Homo sapiens: one gene and its partners. The protein of the gene in region 1 interacts with the protein of each later gene in a biochemical or structural test. Each region holds a gene or a part of one and is shown on either strand. Other genes may lie near its edges.

Evidence for each region.
Region 2: the proteins of PPP1R14A (region 1) and CSNK1G3 form a complex in vitro, tested with the Homo sapiens proteins (one study listed by BioGRID).
Region 3: the proteins of PPP1R14A (region 1) and PRKCE form a complex in vitro, tested with the Homo sapiens proteins (one study listed by BioGRID).
Region 4: the proteins of PPP1R14A (region 1) and CSNK1E form a complex in vitro, tested with the Homo sapiens proteins (one study listed by BioGRID).

What each region holds. Positions count from the first base shown.
Region 1 is NC_000019.10:38,250,703-38,253,379, reverse strand, and holds the end of PPP1R14A (protein phosphatase 1 regulatory subunit 14A), read left to right. Parts: intron 1-405; coding exon 406-486; intron 487-1,041; coding exon 1,042-1,074; intron 1,075-1,933; coding exon 1,934-2,062; 3' UTR 2,063-2,143; downstream 2,144-2,677. UniProt on the Homo sapiens protein: Inhibitor of PPP1CA. Has over 1000-fold higher inhibitory activity when phosphorylated, creating a molecular switch for regulating the phosphorylation status of PPP1CA substrates and smooth muscle contraction.
Region 2 is NC_000005.10:123,585,151-123,592,189, forward strand, and holds part of CSNK1G3 (casein kinase I isoform gamma-3), read left to right. Parts: intron 1-2,917; coding exon 2,918-3,003; intron 3,004-3,276; coding exon 3,277-3,361; intron 3,362-5,259; coding exon 5,260-5,408; intron 5,409-6,168; coding exon 6,169-6,264; intron 6,265-7,039. UniProt on the Homo sapiens protein: Serine/threonine-protein kinase. Casein kinases are operationally defined by their preferential utilization of acidic proteins such as caseins as substrates. It can phosphorylate a large number of proteins. Participates in Wnt signaling.
Region 3 is NC_000002.12:46,179,652-46,186,690, forward strand, and holds part of PRKCE (protein kinase C epsilon type), read left to right. Parts: intron 1-5,083; coding exon 5,084-5,230; 3' UTR 5,231-7,039.
Region 4 is NC_000022.11:38,307,415-38,314,453, reverse strand, and holds part of CSNK1E (casein kinase I), read left to right. Parts: intron 1-284; 5' UTR 285-296; coding exon 297-372; intron 373-7,039. Other genes in the region: TPTEP2-CSNK1E (casein kinase I), read left to right, coding at 297-372.

The DNA of each region.
Region 1 (2,677 bases):
GCCTCTCCTCCCCTGCACCTAGTGCTAAGACTTTTCCTTGAAAGGGCAGAAGCCAGCTCCTCTCCCGAATCCCAGAATCTGACATTCCAGGACTCCACTAGGCCTGTTTTCCTCTGTGGGAACTAGAGCCAAGGCGAGAGACCCGTGCCAGCCCCGAGGCTCCCGGGGCCCATGGGCCCAGGCATCGGGCTGGTACAGGGCCCCGGGGCTCTCTCAGCCCATCTGTCACCCCTCCCCCCCAACACCCAGATGTCCCGTCTTGGCAGTGCTGTCCCGGACTGCCACATTAATGCTCCAGAACCCGCCAGCTGGGCCCTGGGGCCGGTGGGGCTCCTGCAGAGCCCTGGACAAAGGCGAGGGAGGGAGGGAAGGGGATCCTAAGCACCCCTCCCTCCCTGGCCCTAGGAGGCAGACATGCCCGATGAGATCAACATTGATGAATTGTTGGAGTTAGAGAGTGAAGAGGAGAGAAGCCGGAAAATCCAGGTAGGTGGGGGGACGTGTCCCCCAGCCTCCCACTTTGCACCTCCCTAAAAATAATAGCAATAGTTCACGTGTTTACTGAGTGCTCACTAGATGCCGGGCACTGGTGTGATGGCTTTACATGTATTCACTCACTTAACCCTCACAAAACCCTCCGAAGCAGGCGCTAGTGTGAGCTCCATTTTCCCCATGAGGAAAATGAGGCCCAGAGAGGTTGAATCCCTTGCCCAGTGTCACACAGCTCAGAAGGAGCAGAGCTGGGCATCGAACCCAGGCAGTTTGGCAGCCATGTCTTTGCTTATGGCTTATACCTTTTTAGAGGAGGGAAGTGCTGTGTGACCCTCTCGCCCTCTCTGGATCTAGTAACTCACCCCTGCCCTGAGTCGATCCACATGCCCCTTGGGCTCTGTTCCTCTCTTGAAGCTTGGTGGGCAGTCCACCCTGGAGTCTGACTTCCATTTGTCTTGCTGCTGGGGCCTTTTGGGAAAGGGAAGGGGCTGGAGGGGAGTAGGTGTTAGTCATTTACTGTTTTGTTTTGTTCTTGGTTGGGGGTTTTAGGGACTCCTGAAGTCATGTGGGAAACCTGTCGAGGTGAGTTTTCTCTCCCTCATTCTCTCCCTGTTCTGGCCCCAAGTACTCTGATGGGGGAGGGGGAAGAAGCTGGCAGAAGGGTCTCTGGGGAACACCACCCGGCCCCACCACCCCCGGCCCCAACCTGCCCTCCGCAGCTCTTTCTGGTCTCCAGGGGTGTCTTTTGTCCTCCTACTTGTCTCTCTCCCTCTCTCCCCCATCTGCTGAGGGGGCTCCATTCTGTCCTCCCCCATCTGCCCTGTTTTTGCCTCTCCTGTGCCTGTCCTTTGGCCACCAGCCTTCGGGCTCAGTCTCCCTCTGTCCTCCCCTGTCACTGCCTCCGCCACCCCGGGCTCCCTTCCCCACCTCTGGGGGCCCTCCATCCTCCCAGGCCCTGAAGCTGAGCGGCCCAACCCCTCCCACTTCCTTCCCTGCTTTAAAAGGGAAAACTATTCATGTTTCTCCAACTAGCTCTAGGGACAAACGTCATTGCATTTCTGTTCGCCCTGGATCTATCTCTGGGGACCTGTCTCCACATGTCTCTGTTTCTTTCTCTGTCCTTATGTCTCTCTCTGTCTCTATCTCTACATGTCTCTCTGTTTCTGTGTCTGTTTCTCCCCCTCCCCCACTCCGTATCTGTCTCCTTGGATCTCTATCTCTCTTCCTAGCTCTTTCTCTCCATCCCTCCCATCGCCCTTTCCCCATCTCTGTCTTTCTCCCGGCTCACTTTTCTCTCTATGTCTATAGCCTCCGCCCCTAACTCCCCCCACCCCACAATCAGAGAACAGGAGGAGGCGCCCAGGTCAGGGACTGGGCTGGACAGGGGCAGAGGGTGCCCCCGCACTGTTCCCATGTTCTCAGCTCCCCCACCCTGTCTCAGGACTTCATCCAGGAGCTGCTGGCAAAGCTTCAAGGCCTCCACAGGCAGCCCGGCCTCCGCCAGCCAAGCCCCTCCCACGACGGCAGCCTCAGCCCCCTCCAGGACCGGGCCCGGACTGCTCACCCCTGACCCTCTTGCACTCTCCCTGCCCCCCGGACGCCGCCCAGCTTGCTTGTGTATAAGTTGTATTTAATGGTTCTGTAACAATAACACTGTGTGGCTGTTTTTCCTCCCCCCGGGTTACCATGGGCTTCCCCGAGCTCCCCCCACAACCTCCCTCTCTCCTCCTGTGGCCTCTGCTCATGTCCCTGTCCCAGCACTGCAGCTGGGCCTGCCAGATGGAGAATCACTCCTCCCGGGCCAGAAAGCATGAGAACGGGCCCTGCTGAGCCCACGCCCTTGGGATTTATATCCTAGACCTTGCCTTCCCTTGAACTCCCCACCCCACCCCCATCCCCAGTCCCAGCAAGCAGGGCCCCTATATGCAGGCTCCTGCAGGAATCTGGGTCAAGGGGCATGCTCATGACCAAAGGTGACCGATATTGACTCAGTACAGGTGATCACACAGCAAACAAATCATTCAGCCACTCCATGAAATCTGCGCTGTGCTTATAATGGCCCTTGGTACTGAGGCTGCAAAGATGAGAGGAAGATGGTCTCTGGCATCAAGGTGCTCACACACTATGGGGGGAGAAGGGCCTGAGTGTGAGAATCAGAACAAAGTGTGCTGAATGGCTCAAGATA
Region 2 (7,039 bases), on another chromosome or scaffold:
ATAGACTTATACATAGATGGCCGATTGATTTTTGAGAATGGTGCAAAAGCAACTCGAGGGGAAAGGATAGTTTTGCCAAGAAACTATATGAGAGTAGCTAGATATTAGTATTGAAAAAAATATATCTAAATCCTTACTCCACACCAAAAGCAAAAAAAAAAATTACTTCAAAATGAGTAATAGGTTTAAATGTAGGAACCATAACTATAAAATTTCTAGAAGAAAAAACAGGATAAAATCTTTGTGATCTTGTGGGTAGAGATTTCCTAGATTGGACATCAAAAAGTATAGAAAATAAGAGGAAAAAACCCCTGATAAATTGGACTTCATCAAAATGTAAAATTTCTTTTAAACATACTCTTAAGAAAACAAAAAAATAGCAAGCTGTTTTCTTGAAGGGAAAAGGTATTGGCAAAACATATCTGAAAATAACTTGTGTCCAGAATATACAAGGAACTATTACAACTTTTTAGTAAGACAATCCAATTTTTTAAACAGGCAAACACATGAAATAAAGTTCAGTGTTAGTCACCAGTGAAATACAAATTAAGTCAGTTAATCCATACTTTGAAGTTTGCTTTTCTGAAAGGATTTATTACTGCTTATACTTCATAGCCACTAGCATGGCTAAAATTTAAAAGACCATACAGAGGTTGGACAGGTGCAACTGAAACTCCCATACATTGCTGGTAGAAATGTGAAATGACATAACCCCTTTGGAAAATCATATAGAAGTTTTTTATAAAGTTAAACCTATACTTACAACATCATGTAGCAATCCCCCTTCTAGATATTAACCCAACATAAATGAAAATGTATGTCAACATAGACTAGTACAAGAAGAATGTTCATAACAGCTTTATTCACAATAGCCCCAAACTGGAACCTATTCAAATGTCTGTCAACAGATGAATAAACACATTGTAATATACTACTCAGCATTAAAAAGTAATGAGCTATGGTTGCACGTAACAACATGGATAAATCCTGAAAACATAGTAAGTGAAAGAATTTGGACACGAATCTATACTGTATGATTCCATTCATGTGCACCTGTCTAATCTGTAGTGATGAAGGCAGATAAGTGGTTGCCTGAGGCTGATGGTATTGTGGGGGTTGGGGGAGAGTAATAGGCAAGAGACATTTTGGAGCATTAGAAATGCCTCTTGATTGTGGTGGTAGTTATGCAGGTGTGTTTGTTGTTAAAACTTACCAAACTATACCCTCAGGACTACGAGAATCTAATGAAGTAAAATTTTCGTTATAAAAGTTATAACTAGTTTTTTTCATATTCTCATCCCCACTTTCATTAGTGGATGTAGATGGACTTTAAGGCCACTACTTATTTTGGAAAATTTGCTATTTTTAATAGCATATACTTACATTTTATAATAAAAAGTACAAGAAATAAAAAAACCTCTCCGTTATATCACATTTTTAGCATGCGAAATGGGAAGTTGAAATCTCTTCTCTAGTCTTCCAATCTTGTAGCCTTAATGACTGTCAATTTTGATGTATACTTCTGCAACTTGCAGTCTGGTGGAAGCATATATATTGATTAAATAAAAACACAAACATAGTATCTTTAAATCATAACAAGTGTTATTGAAAACAAGTGTATTAGTCTGTTTTCATGCTGCTGCTGCTGATAAAGTTATACCTGAGACTGGGCAATTTACAAAAGAAAGAGGTTTAATGGACTTACAGTTCCACATGGCTGGGGAGGCCTCACAGTCACGGCAGAAGGCAAGGAGGAGCAAGTCACATCTCATGTGGATGGTGGCAGGCAAAGAGAGCTTGTGCAGGGAAACTCCTTATAAAACCATCAGGTCTCATAAGACTTATTCACTATCAGGAGAAAAGCATGGGAAAGACCTGCCCCCATGATTCAATTACCTCCCACTGAGTCCCTCTCACAACGCATGAGAATTCAAGATGAGATTTGGGTGTGAACACAACCAAACCATATCAACAAGTATAGAATGTTTACACAGTAAAAATCAAAACCTTTTCTGACCCTTCATCCTAGTTCAGAGCCATACTTTGAAAAGTTTGCTTTTCTGAAAGCATTAAGTACTGCCTAGATAGTATGATTGTTCATGTGGATAAAACATCTTGCACATAAACAGACATCCTCTTATTAAAGTATTTTCTCATTGGTAGTTAGCATTTTGGTATTATTTTGAAACATCAAGAAATCTTAAGTATTTAACTTCAGTGACAGAAAAATTGAAATATCATTCAGTCAGCAAGTATTTATAAGCATCTCCCTGAGCCTTAGTCTGTAATCTTTATTCACTTATGTGCTAAATGACATTTTGTTACAACAACAACTTGAAAATGACAGTTTGTTCAAGTAGTATTTTTTGTGATAGTGAAGGGGTTATTAATGTTGGTATGTGTCAAACACAAGTTTTTCTTAAAATATATTACACACAATACTCCATAATCGTGTTTAATTTAATGGAGAGTATTTATCATGGGAGTTTTGTGCTCATATAACTTTAGGAAATGCAGGGTTGAAAAAGTTAAACATTTTAAATTCTAGATTTCTCAGAAGTTTTAATACGTTACCTTCTGAATCTTTAAGACAGAGCTGTAGTATACAGTGACTCTGACCATGGAACTCTTTTCCCCGTGGCCTGTACTTCCATGAATAGACATCTAAGCAGATAAATAAATCTCTAACAGCATCTAAAAATTATAATGGAATATTTTAAAGATGCTCAATAATCTTAATGTAAAAACATTATTTATATAGATATAATTTTATCACTTATAGTTACTAGATCTGTATTTTGTATTTATATGTTGAACTTTTGGAAATTAATTTATACATAATGAAAGAACAAACTCTCCATTCTTCCATTCTTAACTGTTAGAGAAAAGTGAAATTTATATTTCTTTTGTATTTCAGAACAAAGTAGAAGAGACGATTTAGAAGCTTTAGGTCATATGTTCATGTATTTTCTGAGAGGCAGTCTTCCTTGGCAAGGCTTAAAGGTAATTGTTTTTGTGTTTCTTTATTGAATTTCATAAAATATTAAGATATTAAGGTCCTGTCTTCCAACTAAACAGTTTTCATATTTTAAAATTTTATTTTGTAAGTAGGCATCAGGGCTCCCTGTGTTGCCCAGGCTGGTCTCAAACTCCTGGGCTCAAGCATTCCTTCTGCCTTGGCCTTCCAAAGCTCTGTGATTACAGGCTACCGTGTGCAGTCCCAGCTAAATAATTTTTAAATTACCACATTCTCAAGATTTTTTTTTTCTGTTTTAGGCTGACACATTAAAGGAGAGGTATCAGAAAATTGGAGATACAAAACGGGCTACACCAATAGAAGTGTTATGTGAAAATTTTCCAGGTAATGAATAATGTGAGGTTGATACATTATATACAGAAAACTAGAAATGCTAATTTTTATTGCTTAAGTTTATACATATTTTTTTCTATGCTTAAAAAAAAAAGAGCTAAAAATATGATTTAAAGGTTGTCAGCATTTGATGCCGAACCCACAGGGACACTTTGTGTATTTGCTTTGCAAATGGTATTAATAGAAGAAAATCCTGTCTGTTAATAGTGTTGATCATTACCAGCTGAAGTAATATTTTCTTTAGTGATATACTTTTAATGAGTTAAAATTTTTGCTAAGAAATGCCAGTTACAAAGTTTTGGTATTCAGTGTTAGTCATTTGGGTCTCAATGTCAAGTTCAAAGGAGGTATGTGAAGTATGATTTGGTTTAGTTTTCAAATTAAACTTAAATTAAGTAAGGCCAGTAAAACCTTACTGACCTCACTAGTTTGGGGCTAATTTTATATTGGGGAGCTGTATGCATTTATGAAAATAATTTTGCTTTCAAGTAGATTTATGGCAACTCAAATTAAGCCAAAAAAAATTTACTTAAGATTTCTACATCAATTAAGGAATAAGAATAACTTGTTAGTATATTAAGATAATGACTGTGATTTATTTGTGCAGCCACATTAAGTGAAAAGAGAGCTAAATTTGAAGATAAAATACGGAATTCCTATCTCACTTTAGTATTCCGTAGTTCTCCTGTATAATGCTGGCGTTATTAATGTAATAATAATATTATCAACATAACAAAAGTAGCTCTTTCTCAAGCTTGTTTATATTATTCATTGACAGCAAACTTTAATTATATATTTTCCTTTCTTGCTATAATATCTAGAAGTAGATTTTTTAAAATGTCGGTTAATAGTACTAGCAGTTTAGTGTAGGCAGATAGGGTAGTTGTCATTAAGGAAGCCTATATAAAGGTGGGAAAAATGGGGTTGCCAAATCAAATTAGCCAGGTATTTAGCTAGAAAGTGGAATAGTGGGAGAGTCACCACCTAAAGAAGGTCACTGCACACCACTTTTGTTGCCTCATTGTGCTGGGTGTGATCTTTTTCCTGTTGGCTGGGGCTGCCTGTGAATGCTAGGTGTAACTTACCATCTCTTACTGTAGTGATTTTCTGTGCCCTGATGGTGAAATGCCCTGCTTTACTAATTGCTCACCATTTTGCCCATTGTTTTATATTTATATATTTGTTTGTCTGTTTGTTTGTTTTTGCATGTATTAGATACATGTATCTAATACATTTTGGAATTATAATAGCATGCAGAGATTTGTATATCGCCAAATAATTGTTAAATATATGACCAGAAATTAAGAGAAGACTTACACTGTCCTCTTGTGTTATGTTTTTGAGATTTGTTTTAGCTTTCCTTTGTTAGCTTAATTGGTTAGAATACTGCTCAAAGCCAAGGTTAGGAATTTGAATTCTCTATTAGTTAGTTGGTTTATGTCACTGATTCTAAAGGAAATCCAGCAAGCCAATACAGATGCTTTCATATAAATCAGTTCTCACCGGTATTTTAAATAAAATTTTAAATTTATAAACTGAATATGATGCTTTGTGATTAATCATGCATTATTAAACTGCTTATTCAACTTCTCATACTACCAAATATTAAAAATAATCTTATAAAAATGAAAATTTTAGCTTTTCCTAATGAAATGAAGCAAAAATAGTGGTTGTTAAACTAAACCTCCCATTTTTCTTGTGTCTCTATTCCCTTCCTTCTTTTCCTCTTTTTTATTTTGTTGTAATTAAACTCAGAAAAATTTAAATTGCAATGTAATTTTGTTACTTTTCAAGTGTTTTTATATAATACAATGTGCTTTTAGATACTTAATTTTATTACTGAGTATTAAAGAAAAGTATAGTCCAAATAATTTTTATATTATTTCTAGAAGAAATGGCAACATATCTTCGTTATGTAAGAAGGCTAGATTTTTTTGAAAAACCAGACTATGACTACTTAAGAAAGCTTTTTACTGACTTGTTTGATCGAAAAGGATATATGTTTGATTATGAATATGACTGGATTGGTAAACAGTTGGTGAGTATTCTATATAATAATATATTACTTACAGTATCTGTTGCCTTTTTAATAGTACAATATCTTCAATTGAAAAGAGTTGAGAACAAATAGTTGTTTTAAAGGATTCATTTTATTGTTTTTTAAGGGACATTTCTGCAGGTAGTGCCGTACTAGTGTTCTTTGAGTTTTTCAGAAGCCCTACATCTGGATTCTTTGCCTTTTAGCATGAAGAGTTACTTTTAACTTTTCATCCTGATTTAGTTCTTAATGTCAAATATACTCTTTTTTGTGTAATATTCTCATGATTAATTTAATACTTCAATCCCTTGATGAAAATTAAAATTTGTATGAGTCTCTTCAAGTCAAAATATTGGAAATAAGTAATTTTATTAGTTTTTTTATTCTTTTAATTTTCTTAAAAGTTTATTCTATGTATACATTTGCTTTGGAAATGAGAGGCATAAACATATACATTTTTATCATGTTGATATGAAAATGTAGCCTAAAAGTAATGGCAGCATTAAGTGTTCTGTAGATGTAAAAATAAGTACTTTATAAAGAATTTGAATATTTTAAAAACACTTTAAAAAGTAGGTATATTCTTTTTGCTTTACCTTCTTAGCTTTAACAACATATTTTGATAATGATGCCTTTACTTAAAGCCTTAGTTTATTTAACAGTCTTTTGTTTTTTTCCTTAATTCTTTTAAGCAGCTAAATGATTTTAAATAAGAATTTTAAAATGGAATGTATTGATACCAATTGTTATTGTATTGTAGCCTACTCCAGTGGGTGCAGTTCAGCAAGATCCTGCTCTGTCATCAAACAGAGAAGCACATCAACACAGAGATAAGATGCAACAATCCAAAAACCAGGTTTGCTGCCCTTTAGATATGAAATACCTTCCTTTCATGATTGAAACATACACTTTTTTCTTCAATAGATAAAACAGACTGAAGGATTGAAAATACATATTTTTAATAGATAATCTATTTTCTCTTAATTTCACTGTTTATTAGTTTAATAATAGCATTAAAATGTTTAATCATAAATCCTTAATTAATGGTACAAATTAGTGTAAACTTTTAGGAATATGTGATATTCTGTTAGAATGGAAGTATTTGGATACCCTATTAGAATGAATTGTAATAACACTTGGACTTTCTAACTGTAGTTTAGTTCAATAAATTATTTATTGAATTTCTGCTATTGTAAAGCTACTGTTCTACACATTATAGAAATTCAGAAGTAAAGAAGACTGTATAACCTTTAAGAATGATTTTGTCACCAGTGTCTAAAAGCAGTGTTGTAGCTAAGAGTTCACTCAATTCTTTAGAATCAGGCATACATGGATATGGCTTGACCCTGGGCAAATAAGTTAATCTGTCAAAGCCTCAGTTTCCTCATCTATAAAATGGAAATAATGCATGTTAATTTAGAGCATACAGTAAGCTTTGAATCAAAACTCTTGTGTCTGCTGTTACTGTTATTATTATTACAATAAATACAGAAATAGCTATATTTAAAAAGAGAATAAGCTATATTACATGAAACACTAATAAAGTAGCATGGAGATCATATGTGGGGCTCTATGAAGATTTTATGGAAAAGGTAGCTTTTGACATGAACCTAAAGAATGAATGGAGTTTT
Region 3 (7,039 bases), on another chromosome or scaffold:
TTCCCAAACCCTGGTCGAACCTGTTTGTTTCTATCTTGTGTCAGCAATTAGAAAACTCTAGTGCCCCAAGTCCTGGGAGAAGAAATTTCATTAATTGGGCCTAAGCCTACCTGTTTTGCAGACCCCATGGGCCTAGTGATGGTCTGGGATGCCTGGCTCTAGGCCCTTCATGAATCAGACTACAGCCATCCCCCCCAACTCCCTGCCTCCACTTCCCAAAATCAAAACACCCCCTGACAGCACAGCAGCCCCTGACCCTGAACCCAGATCACGTTACTGGCTCTAGATAAAGTAGCAGCAAGAGAGGTGCATTTATTAATTTTTTCTAGCAGATATCTATGGAGTATGCAGTATGTGCCAGGCATTGTGCTAGGCTGGGGATAGAATGGTGAGTTCAACCCAGTCTCTGCCTGCAAGGAGCTCATAGATTAGTTGAAAAGAAGAGGCCTCCTCAGTGTGGTGAGTACTAAGTTAGGAGAGATGGTGAGGGCACCCACAAGAAGCTTTGCTCAAGCAGCCCTGGAGGGATGAGGAGGGTTCCTGAAGAAAGGGCATGTACATGGAGGTGGGGAAATTGCATGGATGTGGGGCAGAAGGCAGGGATAGGGGAGGGCATTCCAGGTAGAGGGCTAGCTATGCAAGGCTGGAGGCAAGAGAAAGCAGGAGGAAGCCCCATGGTTGGGCAGTGCCAGGGAGATGAACCTGGGGGATGAGGCAAGGACAAGCTCCTGAAGGGCCTCAGAAGCAGGTGAGCGAAAGAACTCAGGACTTTACCCCAAAAGCCGTGATGTGCAATGAAGCATCTCAATTGCTGGAGGAAGCACTAGGATGTTCAGGCAGGCCCAGGCTCAGTCCTAGTTCAGGATTTGGAGGCACAGAAAGAAAGGTAAGACTCAGCCCCTAACTTCAGGAAACTCACTGATGGGCAGATACCATGCACTGTGTTGGGAAACAACCAAGCTGTGCATGATGCATGCCCATGGCACACGAATGCTAAGATTTGAAGGCATGATGGGAGCTATCATTTATTGAGTGCACTCTGTATGCCAGGTTCTGCAGAAGGAACCTAATATCACATCTCACTCAGTCCTCAAGGAAACCTATAGTGTGCCTGTTACCACCCCCGTGTGACAGATGGAAAGACCACGGCTTAAAGAGGTTAACTTCACAGCGTCAATAACCAGGAAAGGATGGCACCAGAATGAGCTCAGCCGGTGATCTTCCTCCTACTCTATTCAGCCTTCCCTAAGTGTGGGCCAAAGGTTGTAGAAAAGGCTTCACGGATTAGGAAGGGACTGGCGAGTTAGAATGTTGTTCCCTGTGTCCCACTGTCATCTCTCAGGCTCTGCAGTGGGGGCCAGGAGCCTGACATTTAGGCATTAGGGGAGGCAGGGATGACTGAGGATCAGGATAAACAAGTGTCTCTGAGAGCCTGCCCCTCAGAATCTTTAAGTCGAGTCCAGTGCCTGCTCTGTGCGGGAGGTAGCAGCTTTTCAAAGAATAAAATCAGCGAGTAAAGAATATAATCTGCAGTTCTTTGCAAATTTGACGATGCTGTGCTGCCTACATACCATTAATAGGGGATGGGTTTTCCCAGAGATGTTTGCTTTGGAAAACTCCCAAGCCTCTACTGTTAACAGTTAGAGATTGCACATAGTGGGGATGGTTATTTGAATTAGAAATGGGTAACTCACATGCACCTGAAATGTCTCCAAGTAAAGTAGGGTAGGGGCCAAGTTGTATAAGGAGATGGGTGAGCCAAGTCTGTAACGATCATGAAGAATGGCATACTCTCTCAAATGCCACAGATGATTCTGGAACCTCAAGAATCTCAGAGCTGAGCTAAATGGCTCTCCAAGATAGCCCACCATGGAGCTAAGGTCCTCTGGAATGACACCACTAGCAGTATTGACTGAGCCTGGTTCCCTGATTCACAACAGCAAGTCGTGAAATTCAGACATCCTGTAGGATCTAGCTTTACCACTATGCTCAGTTGACCTCAAGAAATGAAACCAGCTTCCATGATTAACAGACACTAATGACCAACAGGTGAAACACAATCAGGTAAATGGGGAGAGCCAGTGCCAGAGGGCTTACAGATTTTCTGAAGTTCTTCATACACAGGTTCCCCTCATTAGCAGCCATCTGGGAGGGAGCTGGGGATGATTCTGAAACCTGGAGAATCCCGGTCACTATATCATACATTAGTTGAAAAGAGGGAGCCTCCTCAGTGTGGTGAGTGCCAAGTTAGGAGAGATGGTGAAGGCATCTCCTGCCTACACGCCTTGTACAGCCAGCCCTCTGCCTGGATTATACCGGTCTACCACATACCTGGGCAAGGCTCGTCCTTAGTGACGTTACAAATGGAATATTCTTCTTGCCCTATTCCTTGACTCTCTTTTTCTCCTTACTGCCACCCCTACTACTCCATTATCCCCTTCGGCTCCAGCTCCCCCGGCGTGGATGCTCCTGGCTTGCCTTCTGGGATGATACCCAGGGCTTCCCTAATTGTTGCCACAGCCTACCCAGCCCGCTCCTCCCTCTGGACTGACTCACTTCGCCAGGCACAGAGGGCCCATAGCCTGCAATCCTCCCCAGTCAGTGAATCCCTCCCCCTTCCACAGAGATCTTCAGAAGAGGTGTCGCCACACCCTTTGCCCAGGCGCCACCCTCCCGCGTCAGTGTGCGTCACCGTGGGGATGGTCTTTGTTGTTTCCCTCTCAAGCAGGGCCCTCCTTTTCCTCTTGTTCTGTACACACTGGAGAGGGAGAACAGATGGTCCTCCTGCCGGGGGCCAGCCCTCCTGGCAGAGGTGACCAAACCACCCGGCTTTCCCATCTCAGGGGCATCATGGACACCCCTCAGCTATAGGTTCTGTTTCTGGGGATCCCTTGGGTTTTCTGTGTGTCCCCCCCTTCCCCCTTCCAAGGTCTCTGAGACCTGCTGACCTATGCAGCTCAAGCCCAGAGAGAAGACACCAGGCAGGACTGGTGGTGCTAAAAGATGGTAGAAATCAGTTTGTCCCTCCTCCGTGCTGTTTGTGATTTTGATTTCAACCTGGGACGAGTTGAAAACAGTCCCCCGCGCAGCTCACCCGGCCCACGTTACCCACTATCTTCCCGGACTCACAGCTGTCTCCACCCATGCTTGCCTACTGGCAGGCCTTTCCGGCTTTATTTTGCCTAGTGGTGTTACCAAAATGTCTCCTGGTTGAACTTGACTCTTGTTATATCTTCCAATTTCTCCCGTGTCCAGATTTCCAGACCTTACCCACTGTGGAAGGCATCACACTGAAGCCCAGACATGAGTTCTGGGTCTGCTCTTACCCAGTCCAGTGACCCTGGGAAAGTCAACAAACCTCTCTGAGCCAGTTTCCTCATCTGCAGGATCAGGATGTTACCAGCCTGTTCTGAGGATCAAATGAGCGAATAAATGCAAAGATTCTTTGTAAACTGTAAACCAACATTCTCCAAACTGCATTCTGCAGACCCTGCTCTCAGGAGAGGTGTTCATAAACTATTTAGGAAAACAAAAAAGTTTTAGGTCAAGTTTGAGGAAGGCTAGCCTAAACAAAGCAAACTAGATTTCCTCACTCTAGAATTTCTCAGAGACTAACTTGCCAATGTGCATAGCAAATCTCCAAGAGCAGGGTAGAAAACATGGCTTTATGTCAAAACTGCTTTTTTCATGGACTACTTATTAACTTCTTTAGGTTAGTGGTTTCCACAGAGCATAGCATATATTAATATTATTTCTCCTACAAATAATAATGTGAATCTTTCCACAAGATTTATTCCATCATCCAAGTCACTAATCCTGGGTAATACCAGTTAATCAGTGTCTGAAAAAAGTATTGCTGGAGTCCCTGCCTTTAATCTTCTGGGCATTGTGCTCTGTGCTGTGGGGGAGAGGGGACCTGCTATTGAAGGCCTCTGCCATTGGACTCCAGCCCTAACTCCCGCCATCCCCATGCCGCACTCTGCCCCTGCAGCTTAGTGAACCCGCTGCCCTGTGTATGCATCTTTTGTCTTCCTGTTCCCTGCCTTTGTTCCATCCTTCTCCCTGCCAAGGTGCCTCCCTCCCATTTCTACCAGTACAGTTGTCACCCATTCCTCAAGTCTTAGCCCAAATCCCAACTTCTCCATGGAAATTTTTCTAACTAAAGCGATGTGTTCTACACAGGACTACTGACCCCTTGAACTCAACTCTAAGCCCCTAAAGGCAGAGAGCATTACTTATACTTCCTGATTTTCTCCAAAAACCAGCATTCATTTGTGGGTTGATTGATTGCTCCCTTCCACCCCACCCCCCAAGAACCATAAGGCACACAGTTGTACCTTGGGAACTTCAACCCAGAGGTATGGGTCCTTCAGAGCTGGGGAGTCAGTGGTGAGTTTACTTATTTCATTCAGTAGACACTTATTGCTGGGGAACTGCTGGGAACTCAAAGTTGAACAAGACAAGGTCTCTGCCTTTAAGAAGCTCTTGGTCTAGACAAAAGCATAAAAACGTCATTGCAAGTCAATGTGCTGAGTTTAATAATTGAAAAAATACTGGAGCACAAAATTGGGTTCGTGGTGAGAGTAAGTGGAAATCGAGGCAGGCTTGTGGAGAGGATGTCACCTGGAGCAGATGTGGCCGGGTTATGGGGAAGAAGGACCTCTGAGAGGGGATTCAGATCTGTTCCCTGGGTCACAGGGAGGAATGTTGTAATGGAGCCAGTAGGTTACAGCAGTTGCTGAAAGAGGGTGTGAGATGGGACCTTTGCATCATACACACACAAACACACACACACACACACACACACACACGTCTGTGGGAATCCCACTTCCCTGCTTTTCCATCATACCCTCTCACCCCTTCTTCCTTCTCACCTTGACTCATTCTTCCTCTCCTCGTCTCTCACCTCCGGGTCCTGGGGCCATCCATCGTTACCTCATCGGGACAGCCCCGTGTCTGCTGTCTGTTGGTAGCTAGAGGCCTGCTTTGGTGACAGGCTGGTCAGTGCGGTGCCCACTCCCCATGGGGGGCCCTCAGGAGGGAGAGCAGCCTCAACTCACCACTTTCTCTTTTCTTCCCACAGAAAACCAAAAGAGACGTCAATAATTTTGACCAAGACTTTACCCGGGAAGAGCCGGTACTCACCCTTGTGGACGAAGCAATTGTAAAGCAGATCAACCAGGAGGAATTCAAAGGTTTCTCCTACTTTGGTGAAGACCTGATGCCCTGAGAGCCCACTGCAGTTGGACTTTGCCGATGCTGCAAGAAGGGGTGCAGAGAAGACTCCTGTGTTGGAGACACTCAGCAGGTCTTGAACTACTTCTCCTCCTCGGAGCCCCAGTCCCATGTCCACTGTCTATTTATTGCATTCCCTTGCCCCAGGCCACCTCCTCCCCCTCCCACCTGGTGACCAGAAGGCGCTCTCGGTTCTTGTCTCACCAGTAATGCAGACTCATTGGGTCAGCAATTAGCTGTATACACTGCCGTGTTTGGACCATTGGCAAGCCTGGTTCCACTCCTCAGGGGCTCCTGGCAGTGAAGCAACTTCAGTTCTTTTACTGCAAAGAACAGAAAAAAGAAAGAAAGCAAACAAGAAGACTCCGGCTCTGCTATCGGACACAGATCCTGATCCCTCTTGCTTCTTTTCCCTCCTGCACCGCAGCTTGCCATCCCTGCCCTTCTGTCCTGGAGAAGAGACTGGTGCTTCTCCGCACACACGAGGGAGGGCGCCCTTGAGGCATGCCCTCTGAGGGAGGGAGACCAGAGATGCAGGGATTGGCCAGCTGGGTTGGTTTGCTCTGGAATGGCTAACTCTTGCCTGCTTTGGTTTTAGCTTTTCAGCATGCCAAAGTCATGTAAGTTTGTGTCTTGTGGAAGAAATCCTCTTTGTGGAAAAAGAAACAGGGTTTTGAACTCTGTTAACATTTGAAAAATATATTTTCAAATTCACTTTCTAATTGGCCAAAAGAGATGAGTTCCAGTCTGAATACAGGTAGATATTAAAGGGCTAATAAAAAATGAGAAACCGGTCGTCCAAGGTGGATGCTGTCAATGCCCGAGTGACACATGAGAGCTGTATGAATTGAGAGAAAAGGCAACAAGTAGCATTCTTCATCATTCAAGTTCTACCTGGACACAAAGGCGAGGACCCTGGGGTTCCAACAAAGCTCAGCTCCCAGATTCTCTTTCCAGTTTCATCCTAAGTTCCTAGCATAAACACTATTTATTTTCTGCAGCAGTGTGTTATTTTTGCGCACTTATACAAAATGGTAGTACTACTGTGTTGTGGTTTTTAAACATTAAACATGTAAAGTTATATACGAAATATCTGCTTTTGGAATAAGCAGAATGAGGCTAAACATGGGTTATACAAAGGGTATCTGGAAACTGAAGAGCAACTTGTTAGAAAACTGACAATGTCGCAAGATGTACTCAGTTTTGTTTCTGTGTGACATGCAATGGCAACTCATGTGGACACTATTGAAGGGATGTGACATTACCTCCTGTAGATATGCTAACAGTGTTATTCTTTCATTTCCAAGGGTTCTCTGTGGCTTTGTGTATATGTTTCCCAGAGGTCATTTGATTACCTAATTTACTGAACTGATTTAGCAGGGAATGGAATCCATTCCAACTATTGCACGTGGATTTCCCAGCTGCCCCTAAATATATATACTTGTGAGTGGCAAAGTGGCACTAATGAAGCTTTTGCCTTTTGTACATTTGAGATTTTTGTATATAGTGTTTGCTGCAAGGCCTGTGGAATTAATTCGTTGCATATAGAGGTATCAACTGCTGCATGTTCAGGCATATTATAAAACTTTAGTCTATGAAAGAATAATTATAATAATGTCCAGGTGCAATACTCTGTAAGTCTATTGGTTCAAGTTACCGAGAGATAGGTGTGTTCCTTTATGGGGGATGGGGGGGTGTGTTGGGGATTCTTTGTATTGTTTATTTCATTTTGGTTTATTTTAAAAGATGTAAACATATATTAAGCTATATTAAATCTCACATACAGTTCTTCTGTGCTCTATTA
Region 4 (7,039 bases), on another chromosome or scaffold:
GATCCCTTGAGAAGCTTCTTTTGAGGGGCCCCTGAATGAGCATCCCCCAAAGACATGCTTGCTTGGCTGCTTCCTCTCTGGCCACACTGAAACCTGTCCTCAGCCTGCCTTAGCTGTTCCCCAGGTGTGTGGAGTGCAGGCTGTGGGCCACCTGACACCTGCAGAATGTGGTCTTCGAGAATGCAGGTTTTCGAGTTCCTGGTGGCTCTGCCTGGCCTTGGTGGACTGGACCCCTTTCCCGGCTCCCCACGTCGCTGACCCTCATGTTCCTGCTTCCTCTGCAGCAAGAGTGAGCCATGGAGCTACGTGTGGGGAACAAGTACCGCCTGGGACGGAAGATCGGGAGCGGGTCCTTCGGAGATATCTACCTGGGTAAGTGTTCCTAGCTCCAGCTGGAGCCCCTGGGGCCAGCCCATGGGACCAAGAGGAGGAAAGACCCCAGGATTTGGGGATCTGAAGTCAGAATGTGGCTCCAGGGGCATGATTTGCCCCAGGGCCATCCCAGATGGGGAAGGAAGCAGCAGGTTGCCGGGAGGCAGGCCAGGGGGCTCCTCTCGCAGGCCAGGCTGGGCACTGGAGGGTATTTTTAGCTCCAGTTTCTGCAGGAGTCATGCGGTTCTTTTGTGCCTCAGTGTCCCGGGTCAGCTGGGTCACCAGCTGGGTGTGGGAAAACCCAGGCGGGGTTCACATCCTCTCCCCTGCTTCCTGGGAGAAGGATATTGGTAGATAGAAGGGACTTGGGTTGCTGCTGGACCCCTAGCCAGGCCCCCCTCTCTATGTCCTGGCCTCCTGGAACCCAGCCCAGGCAGGCTTTGGGATGACGCAGGCTCCCCTGTAACCTCGGGGGTGGGGTGGGGGGATGCGGTCTCCTCATTAGGGAGTTCTCTCTCTCTCTTTTTCTCTCCGGATGTGCTTCCTGTTGAAAGTATGAGTATGCTGTGATGTTGCATTTTAAACAAATCACTGACCTCTCAGTCCTCCCCTTGGCCTGGGAGAAATGAGGCTTGCGCCTTTCAGTGCCACTTCTGAGGGGCACGGTCATGAGTCTTGGCCCTTCCTTTGTGCTTATTGGTCCAAAGGGAAGGTATTTAGTGTTGGTGCTTGTGGATTAGCGGGTGGAGGCTTGAAGTTGCTGGAGTGAGGTGGCCAGCCCTTCTACGAGTTATCCTCATTCCTGTCCCTGCACCCTCAGAAGCAGGCTAGACACACCTCTGTGCCTTGGTTACCCTCCTTGGAAAATGAAAATCAGCTCTGTCCAGTGCAGAGAACACCAAGTCTGTGTGTCGTGTCCATCAGCTCAGAACTTCGGGGTTTCTGTTACCCCATGGTTAGGGTTCCTTGGAGTATGAAATGTGCTAAGGAAGCCTCAATGGAGACGGGGACGGAGACTGGGAGTTCCCTGACCACTTCCTTGCAGGGTACTTTCTGCAGCCCCTAGAGATAGTACCAGATTATTTGTTTGGCACATCAGGAAACTGAGGCACAGATGGTCAAGTTGGCCTCCCAAGACCGCTCTAGAAAACTGGCAGAAGCAGCCTGTATGCCCACAGCCCTCCACATGAGTGAGAGCGTGGAAGACAGAACATGCCGAGGGAGACGTTAGACGTCTAGCTCTGCGTTCTAGACGTGGCTTTGTGTGGCTGTGGGAAGGTCATGCAGCTCCTCTGTGCCTCAGTGTCCCCATCTGTAGTTTGTGATAATGCTGCCTGACTGACCAAGAACTGTTCCAAGGCAGAGATGAAATGACAGATGGGAAAGTATTTTGTAAACTCTAAAGTGCCAGCCAGATGTGCAGTTCATTGCTGAGTGCTTAGTAGATGAGCCTCCCCTATGGACACCCTGGAGCTCAGAGGGAGGGAGAGTGTGTGGTGCAGCTGGTTTAAAGGTTTTTCTCTGCGACCCCAAGCTACTCCCGGGGAGGCAGGCATTTGGTAATATCTGCTAGTGCCCAGCGCAGTGGGTGTTCACTGAAGGCTAGTCAAGCAAACCAATGAGAAAATGGGGATTGTGACATGCACAGACATGCACAGTAGCCTCACAGCAGAATAGAAAAATGCCGGGATGGCCAGGTGCGGTGGCTCACACCTGTAACGCCAGCACTTTGGGAAGCCAAGACAGACAGATTGCTGGAGTCCAGGAGTTCGAAACCAACTTGGGCAACATGGTGAGACCCCATCTCTACAAGAAAAATATAAAAAGTAGCTGGGCATGGCGGCACGCGCCTGTAATCTCAGCTACTCAGGAGGCTGAGGTGGGAGAATCACCTGAGCCATGGAGGTTGAGGCTACAGTGAGCTGAGATCACACTCCAGCGTGGGTGTCAGAGTGAGACCATGTCTCAAAAAAAAGGAGGCCAGGAGATATGGCTCACACCTGTAATCCCAGCACTTTGGGAGGCCGAGGCGGGCAGATCACTTGAGGTCAGGAGTTCGAGACCAGCCTGGCCAACATGGTGAAACGCTGTCTCTACTAAAGATACAAAAATTAGCTGGGTGTGGTGGCACATGCCTGTATCCCAGGTACTCTGGAGGCTGAGGCGGAAGAATGGCTTGAATCTGGGAGGTGGAGGTTGCAGTGAGCTGAGATCGTGTCATTGCACTCCAGCCTGGGCGACAAAGCAAGACTCCATCAAAAAAAAAAAAAAAAGAAGGAAAGAAAAGGGCTGAGATGTGGGGGCCAGTCCAGGTTCAGATCCCCAGCGTGTTCCTCATTTGCTGTGTGACCTGGAGTAAGTCACCATATCATTCTGAGCCTCAGTCTTCTCATCTGAAATGAGTGTACCCAGCTCCTTACTGTTTGTGAAATTGGAGTGGGTGTAAAGGACCCTCGTATTATTGAAGCTGTTGGGCTGAGCACTGAAGTCTGGAGCCACTGGCTGGAGGTCAAAGGGCATGGAGACAGCTCTTGGCACAGACTTGTTCCTAGACAGCGCCCATCCCAGGTCCCGTCGCTCTTTTTGCAGACAGGAGACAGGCCCATGGCTGGAGCGGGGACAGCCCAAGATCACTCAGAAAATCCAGAATCTTGTGTGGTGGGACCTCCCTGGGGACAGGACTTCCTGTTTATCTGCATAGTCATCTCATTCATTTTAAAAACTAAGTACAGATTTACTCCTCTTTGTACTGGCTCTAGAGTAAATTCGACCTAGGTTTGGGTGCTGGTTCTTCCTTTTGTGAGCTGTATGCGCTTGAGCAGGTGATGACCTTGTCCATCCTTGGCTTCCCCATCTGCAAAATGGGGTCGTGCAAAGTAATGAGGTCGTGGCGTGTAAAATACCCACGTGTGCTGGGCCCAGCAGTAGTGCTGTGCGCTGCGCCCCCACCATTGGTCTTAGTTTCTAGTTCGGAGTTGATTTCGAAGGGTCTGGGTCCTCTGGGTCTGAGTCTGGGGAGGCGAGTCAGACTCCTGACTCTCCCATCTTCACTGGTGCAAGGGCCTCAGGGGACCCTGCCCTGACTCACCATCCTGCCAGCACCCTCCTGGGCCCCTGTCTTGTTGGTTTGGGGACAGTGGTGATTGTAGGGCGTCCCCGGCCAGCCTTGCTGGCTCCATTTATTCAACACTCTGGCCACATTCTTATCCCCAGTGCTCTGCCAGGGCCTGACTCCAGATGGCCTCTGCCGGTGGGGCTGGATGCGTCCTCCAAGCCCTGCTTTCCAGGATCACCCGAGGGCCAGCACACTATGGATGTGGCTTCTGCCCCTTCTCCCTCTGCATCATAAGGGGTCAGCCAAGAGAGTGGGGCCTGCTTTGTTAAGGCACTGCTGTTGCCCATGCAGGGTCCAGAGGTGGCCAAATCTGGGCCCATTTGCTAGACTTGCATCCTGGGGAACTCTCTAGACCTCTTAGAGTCTCTGGTCCTCAGCTCTGAAAGGGGTGGCGAACAGTGTTGTTCGCTGACAGGTGGTTCCAGGGGTGAGAGTTAGTGTGGGAAATACTCCAGGCCTCTGATGGGTGGGAACTGAGGTTGCCGCCGCTGCTGCTGCCGGGACGGTGGGCTTCATCCCCTGTCCTCCAGTCCACCCATGTCCCCGATTGTGTCCATGTGTCTGTGTAGGTGTCAAGTAGGCCCCCGTGTGAGGCTGGCCACGCCCGTGGCCACCTGGAACTTGCCAAGTTCCCAGCCCCTCTAGGGCCAGCCAAGTCCAAGCCCTTTTCTGTGTCCAAGTTTGTTTTGGGAACTGGCATTCCCTCCACTGTGTCTGACTCATGGGGCATCTTCTGTTCCTGAAATCGGGCAGTTCTAGCTTCTAGGCCTTCGCATGTGGGGCACCCCTGCATCTATGCTCAGCCGGCTCCCAGACACAGCCTCTGCCAGGAAGCCTCACCTGGAGTTTGAGTGGAGAAAAAACACAGGGACTTTGGGGACTAAGTTTCAAATTCTGGCTGTGCCCCATCCAGTTCTGTCAGACCTTAGGCCAGTTACCTAACGTTTCTGAACCTCAGCTTAGCGGTTGTAAGAATTAAGGGAGCTCAGAGAAAAGCCTGGCGGCTTCCTGATAGAATTTAGAGGCCACCAAGGAACTCATTGGTGGCAGGACCTGCTGCAGGGGGAGGCAGCTCTGGCAGGTTTCCAGCACTTGCGGGGGTCAGAGGCTTTGCCTAGCAGCTTGGGTCCCTGTCCCTGGGAAGTTTGTAGCATATGATCATTTGACCTTTGGTGTCTGTTTTTCCACATGTCAAACAGAAATGCAAACAGTAGGCCAGGCACAGTGGCTCACGCCTGTAATCCCAGCACTTGGGAGACCAAGGCGGGCAGATCATTTGAGGTCAGGAGTTTGAGACCAGCCCGGCCAACATGGTGAAACCCCATCTCTACTAATAATACAAAAATTAGCCAGGCGTGGTGGTGTCTGCTTGTAATCCCAGTTACTCGGGAGGCTGAGGCATGAGAATCGCTTGAACCCGGGAGGCAGAAGTTGCAGTGAGCCGAGATCATGCCACTGCACTCCAGCCCAGGCGACAAAGTGAAGCTGTCTCAAAAAAAAAAGAAAAAAGAAATACAAACAGTAGTACTCGAAGAGTGGAGTAAGGGCTCGAGGGGAAGAGGGCCCTGTCTACCACTACCTCCCCAGCACCTCTCCTCCCTGCACACATCTGCCGAATCACCAAGTGCTGCAGGCCCTGCCTCCAAAGTGTCAATCAGTTTCTGCACCCTGCCCAGGCAGGGCCACCGTCAGCTCTTGCCTGGTCTCTGTAGTGGCCTTCCCAGGCCTTCCACTACCCCTCTAGCCTCCTCCAGCCCTTTCGTATCCACCAGGTAGCCTCAACAGGGTGATTTTTGTCCCCCAGGAGACATATGTCAAGATCTGGAGACCTTTTGGTTGTTACAATTCAGGGGGAAAGGGGTGCCCTGGCATCTAGTGGGTAGAAGTCATGGGTGCTGTTAGACTGTGCAGTGCCCAGGGCAGCCCCACAACCAGGAATTCTCCAGCTCCAGTGTCAGTAGTGCCACGGTTGAGAGATCCTGTGATCACACACCTGAACATGGCCCTTGGTGCCTCAGGCTGAAGGCCAGGATCTTAGCCGGCCATTCAAGACCCTTCAGATCTCTTCCCTGCCCACCTCTTCCACTGTCTTTTTCTGCCACCCCATGGTTCCCGCTGCACCTGCTGCTGTTGGGCCTCTGCTTGTGCCGTGACCTCTCTTGTCTGTCCAGTACAGTCCTGTTTGGGAGCCAGGAGCCCTTGCAGCCTGCCCTCCCGGAGGCTCTCCTTTCCTCATAGCATGGCTTATTCCCTCTTCCCCTCCTCCCACTGGGTGGACACCGGCTCATCTCTAGCCTAGGGGCTGCACTTCCCACCAAGCCGAACATCATGGAGCATTGACTGTGTGCCAGGCACTCTTGTAAGCATGTTTGTCTGTCAGAACATCCCAATGAGCCAGATAGTGTCATCGGTTTACACATGAGGTACCTGGGGCTCAGAGGGGTGAAGTGCCTTGTCCGACGACCCCTGGCCAGGGGATGTCCGAGTCAGGATTTGGGCTCTAGTAGGTTGGCTCTGAAACTCACACTTCAACCGCTGCACTCTCCTGCCTCTCTGCTCATGGGGAAATGGAGCATGGCCAGGGGACTCTAAGGATCCTCACTGTCCCCTGGAAACCTGTGTGGCTCATCCCAGTGACGAGCATTGATGTGTCAAAAGCTCTTTACAGTTTGCAAAGTACTTTCATTCCTGTTGCTGGCTAGATTGAGTTATTCATTCTGTTTTTCTTTTTCTTTTATTAAAAATCCAAATACTCAAAAATCAAAACACAAAAATGTGTTAAGTGAAAGAAGCCAGTCACAAAAAATCACGTTGTATGATTCTGTTTGATTCTATTTCTGTGAAATGTCCAGAAAAGACAAATCCATAGAGACAGAATGTAGATTAGTTGGGGGGCAGGGGATGGAGCGAGGAGATAGGACCTTACCCCACTAAAGGCTACAGGTGTTTTCAGGGTGATGAAAATACAGCCCTCCTGGGCCAGGCACAGTGGCTCATGCCTGTAATTCCTGCACATTGGGAGGCTGAGGCAGGTGAATCACTTGAGCCCAGGAGTTGGAGACCAGCCTAGAGATGGCAAACCCTGTCTACAAAAAATACAAAAATTAGCCAGGTGTGGTGGCTTGCGCCTGTAGTCCAGCTACTCGAGAGGCTGAAGTGGGAGGCTCACTTGCGCCCCAGAGGTTGAGGCTGCAGTGAGCTGTGTTAGTGCCACTACAGTCCAGCCTGGGTGGCAGATTGAGACCCTGTCTCAAAAAGAAAAAGAAAATACAGCCCTCCACCTTCGGTACCTGTGGGGAATAGGTTCCAGGATCCCCCTCAGATACCAGAATCCTCTGATTCTCAAGTTCCTGATATAAAAAGCTGTAGTATTTGTATATAAGCTACGCGCATCCTCTGTATACTTTTTTTTGTTTTGAGACGGAGTCTCGCTGTGTCGCCAGGCTGGAGTGCAGTTGTGTGATCTCGGCTCACTGCAACCTCCGCCTCCCAGGTTCAAGAGATTCTCCTACCTCAGCCTCCTGAGAGCTGGGATTACAGGCGCTCCCACGG